Regions from separate parts of the Homo sapiens genome. Here region 2 is linked to region 1. Evidence: fine-mapped expression QTL. A gene starts in region 1. The other region holds a variant in brackets. All regions are shown on one strand. Distances are between the middles of the regions. Region 1 holds the start of SAMD14 (sterile alpha motif domain containing 14). Region 2 overlaps LOC124904025 (a long non-coding RNA gene).

Region 1 (2,500 bases):
ATCAGGGAACTCTGTCCTATAGACTCCACACCTCTCCTCTGACTCTAGACCCCTGATCCAGCTTCACCACTTGCCTTTTTTTTTTTTTTTTTTTTTTTTTTTTTTTTTTTTTTTTGAGATTTGAGTTTCACTCTGTTGGCCAGGCTGAAAGGCAGTGGCACAATCTCAGCTCACTCCAACCTCCACCTCCCAGGTTCAAGCAATTCTCATGCCTCAGCCTCCAGAGTAGCGCCACCATGCCTGACTAATTTTTGTATTTTTAGTAGAGACAAGGGTTTCACCATGTTGGCCAGGCTGGTCTCGAACTCCTGACCTCATGTAATCCACCCACCTTGGCCTCCCAAAGTGCTGGGATTACAGTCGTGAGCCACTGCGCCTGGCCTTTCACCACTTGCTCTTGAGCAAAGCACTTTCCTTCTTCTAAGTCTCTGTTTTCTCTGAGGCAGTGGGTAATGGAAACACCCACCTTGTGGGTTTATTGTGAGGGTGACAATAGATGATCTGAGAGCGCCTGGCACCTGCCAAGCTGTGACGTGCGGTAGCTGGTTGTGGATCCCTACATTGCCTCCCTGGCTGGCCTGCCACTACCATCAGCGCACTGGGTCCAAGTCTGATCTCATCCGTCCCCACCCCCACCTGCTCCAGGGCTTCCTGCCTCAAGCCAAGGTCCACAGCCATCCTAGACCCCTCCTCCCTCACCTCCTAGTCCAGCAGGTCCCCAAATCCTGTCAGCTTCTTCGGTGTCAGCTTCTTCAGGCCTGCATCCTGAAGGGCTCTCAGCTTAATCTGTAATCTTTATGCCCACTGCCACCGGCCCTCAATAGCCTCCAGCGGGTCTCCCTGCCTTCAGAGTGCCCTCTGTAACCCTGTCTCCAGGGGAGCCAAGGGTGCTTCCTAAATGCACACCTGAGCCCCTCCCTCCTCTTAATTTTGTGTGTGTGCGCGCGCGCGCGTGTGTGTGTGTGTGTGTGTGTGTGTGTGGGCGGCGGGGTGGGCGGCTGGTAGAATAAAGTGCAAGCCCCCTGCACCTCCCCAGCTTCAATTTATCTTCCCCTCTTGCCCTCCCACCCCCAACACCCCCTGGCACTTCCCTACCCTGGCCCGCAGTTGTAGCCAACACATCACATCCTCTGGGAATCCCCCAGCCCAGCTCCCGCCGCGGCCGCCTGGACCCAGGCCGGGCCAGGGGTGCGCTCTCCCTTCCGGCAAGAAGTGCCCTCTGTTAGCTGGGCCCATGGCGCCCAGGCTCGTGAGGGCCTCCCCACTCGTCTGAGCCCCCGACTGGCCCACTGGCCTTGAGCGCAGTTAGGGGGCGGGGGTTCTGTTCACCGCTGTCCCCTCCAGCCTCGGCGCCCCGGCTGCTCGGCGGACGTTTGTTGAATGAATGAACTAATCGGGAGCCCTGATGGACCCGGCAGAGGAGGCGGAAGCCCCGTGGGTCCCGTGGCGGGACCGCCCCGGAGCCGCTCCCACCCGCGCAGACTCCGGTGCGCCGCGTCTCCCGCGGGCAGAGAAGTAGCTGCAACTCCGCTCCCCGGCCCCAGCCGCCTCCTCCCCGCCGCCCTCCCCCGCCCCCGCCCCCTCGCTCCCTCCCGCTCTTTGTCTCCTGGGCGCCCGGCTTCTCCGCCACGCGCCCCCCACCCCGACGCCCCTTCCCCGGAGACCCCCGCGGACCCCTGCCGACGCGACGCCGCGCGAATCGGCCCTGCCAGGCGGGGGCCCCGCGTCCGGCCAGGCCTGGCGGGCGGCAGGGGCGGGGAGGGAGGTGGCGCTCGCTCTTCGCTCTTCTCTCTCTCTCTCTCTCTGTCACACACACACACACGCACACGCACACGCACACACACACGGAGCATCCTCCCGTCAGGTCTCCTGGTCCAGCCCCGCCCGCGCCTCCTGCTTCCAGCGAACCTGTTCCCTCTCCCCACATCCCCCGCCCTCCATCTCCCCCGGCTCTGGGACCCTTCCCGCCGACCTCACCCCCACCCCCGGGATGGAGCGGCTCGAGCCCGCCCGGAGCCCCCCGCGGCCGGGGTGACGGTCCCCCCACCCCTCTCCTGCCCGGCCCCCGCCTCGAGCACCATGGGCCTGAGGGGTTCCCGGGGCGCCAGACGCTGAAGATGACCGATGCCGGAGGTGAGGGGCCGGGCGCCCTGGGGTGGACCGGGAACTGGGGCTAGGGCCACTCGGGCCCGCGGTGGGACCCTGAGTGGGGTTGGGCAGGGCTAAGCGACAAGGGCCTTTCTTCCCCTATCCCTAGGGGGACCGCACGGGGCTGGGGTGCCGGGCTGTCAGGGGAGGGGGCGGAGATAGGATTTATGGCCCTAATCCCCTCCCTCCCGCCCGACGCCCGGAGAAATTAATAAAAAGCTGGTGTGGGGGGAGGGGGAGAGGGCTTAACTCTTTCTTGCCCGGCGGGGAGTTGTGCTGATGGTTTGGAGAGAAACTAGCCACCGGGCTCTGACTGGGGAGAAGGGCTCTGAGAGTGGAGTAGGTGCCCTGT
Region 2 (2,500 bases), 25 kb before region 1:
AATACAAAAATTAGCCTGGCATGGTGGTGCGGGCCTGTAATACTAGCTACTCAGGAGGCTGAGGCAGAAGAATTGCTTGAACCTGGGAGGCAGAAGAGGGGAATGGGGACTTATATGGGTATGGAGTTTTAGCTCTGGAAGATGAAAGTAAGTTCTAGAGATAGATGGTGGTGATGGCTCCACAACAAGGTGATTGTACTTAATGCCAGTGACCTGTACACACTGAATGGTGAATTTTATTTTATTTATTTATTTGTTTATTTTTGAGACAGAGTCTCGCTCTGTCGCCCAGACTGGAGTGCAGTGGCGCGATCTCAGCTCACTGCAAGCTCCACCTCCCAGGTTCAAGCCATTCTCCTGCCTCAGCCTCCCGAGTAGCTGGGACTACAGGCGCCCGCCACCATGCCCGGCTAATTTTTCTTGTATTTTTAGTAGAGATGGGGTTTCACCGTGTCAGCCAGGATGGTCTTGATCTCCTGACCTCGTGATCTGCCCGCCTCGGCCTCCCAAAGTGCTGGGATTACAGACGTGAGCCACTGCGCCTGGCCAAAATGGTGAATTTTATATCTCTAGTCTGCTACAATTAAAATATAGTAATGCAAAAATTATGGTCTAGAAAAGCTGTATTCCAAATGTGTGAGTGTTGGGGGAGGTGGACAATGGAACTGGGGAGAAAGAAAAGGGGGCTCAAATATATATATATACTTTTTTTTGAGACGGAGTTTTGCTCTTGTTGCCCAGGCTGTAGTGCAATGGCACGATCTCGGCTCACTGCAAGCTCCGCCTGCCGGGTTCTCGCCATTCTCCTGCCTCAGCCTCCCGAGTAGCTGGGACTACAGGCACCTGCCACCATGCCCAGCTAATTTTTTTGTGTATTTTTAGTAGAGACAGGGTTTCACTGTTAGCCAGGATGGTCTCGATCTCCTGACCTCGTGATCCGCCCTCCTCGGCCTTCCAAAGTGCTGGGATTATGGCACTGGGTGGTGTGAGTCACCGGGCCGGCCAAATATTCTCTTTTATATGTAAAAACCCAAAGCAAAAATGACACATTGCTAGCATTTGTAAATTCTGTCACATGATTCTTTGAAGGCCTCTTACTGTTAAAGAAACTTTTCAAAGTAAAAGTAAAAAAACAATTAATGAACATTTTTGTAGGAAAAAAGAGGTCTCTGAAGTAGAACTGCCCTGAAGTGCAGGATTTCTCACCCCACACCTCACCCCAAAGCCACCTGCGTGCTGGGCACTGAGCGTGGGAGACCTGAGAGCTGGTGTTCTGGAGGCTGTACCTGCGCCAGGCAGAGCCTGGCGGGCTAGTGGGGATGGAGATGGTGGGATGCTGTTTCCTCTGACCCAGGGCAGATGAGGCAAAGGCTGGCAGGAAAAGGTGTCTCCGAGAGCCAGTCTCCTTCTCAGGCACCCACTGCACAAGATC[T/C]GGAGGGCAGATGAAACATAGGAACCATCGAAACACAGAAATGTGTATTATTAGCAGTGAGAGCAGGCAGTAGAGTTTTTTGAATCTGCTGATGACAAAATATATTGCCTAATCTTTCTGATTATTTTTTTTTTCTTTGACCTCCCTGCATATCTCTGGAGCTCCCACAGCTACGGGCTGTCTGCCTTGCAAAATACATATTTACAGGCCCTCTAAGCCCAGCTAAATATAGGCTTTCTTTTAAAGCAACTGATGATTTGGAGAAATCTTTCCTCTGTCCAACCCCTTCCCCCGCCCCCCAACACACACACACACCCTGACTCCTCCTACCAAGTCTCCCTCCCTAGTCTCCAAGATGTATCTGAACTTTCCAAGAGCCACTGGAGCAAGTGTGGAGAGTGATAGAAAGAAACTGGGTACAGCAGAGGGAACCAGCAGCAAGGCAGTCTCCTAGCTGTGAGAGGACCCTAAGGGACCCCTCTCCCTGCAGGGACAATGAGGGGCTTGAGGCACCCACAGGCAGGAGTGAAAAACCCTTTGGGAAGTAGAGAAGAGAGGTCATCCCAAGAATGACCCCCAAAGATTTGGAGAAGCTGTAAGCAAGGGGTGTTTATATTTCAGAATTTCACATATTGAACCTTAAAGAAAATGAGAGCCCCAAAGTCCTGTGAAGACACACAGAGAGATGCAAACACCGAGTTTCATTCTCAGCCACACCTGCCCACATGTGCATGCAGGCACACACCCCCACATGTGCTTGGATACCCTGCAATCAGTAACAGCCAACACTCTGAGCCCCCTTTTAGTGCCTTATGCATTGAGGACCCATTTATTCCTCACAAAAACTCTATGAAGTTGGTATATTATCTTCATCTTATAGATGAAGGAATTTGTTGAAGCCCCTTAGCTGGGGAGTGGGAGGTTGGAGATTCTAACAGAGATGGCCTGGCTTCAAGGCCTGTGCTGCATGCACAAAAGTGAGGGACACCTAGGGTTATCTATGCTCAGGAAACACTCAGACACTCAAGCTAAGCTTTTTGAGGAAACAGGCTTTGGGAGGGGACACGA

What was found. PIP is the estimated chance that this variant, and not a neighbour inherited with it, causes the effect.
Region 2: its variant is the best candidate, but not a certain one, in a credible set for the expression of SAMD14 in whole blood (INTERVAL, PIP 0.85).

Annotation. Positions count from the first base shown.
Region 1 is chr17:50,129,150-50,131,649 of GRCh38, reverse strand. SAMD14 (sterile alpha motif domain containing 14) reads left to right here and starts at 1,490. Exons shown (of 10, transcript NM_001257359.2): 1 at 1,490-2,133. RefSeq lists silencers at 1,395-1,474, 1,715-1,774.
Region 2 is chr17:50,154,479-50,156,978 of GRCh38, reverse strand. All of the region lies in intron 1 of LOC124904025 (a long non-coding RNA gene), which reads right to left. Among named protein-coding and RNA genes, the nearest start is that of PPP1R9B, 5.1 kb to the right of the region's middle. RefSeq lists a cis regulatory region at 2,383-2,500. The variant T/C (reference allele first, on the strand shown) is at 1,433.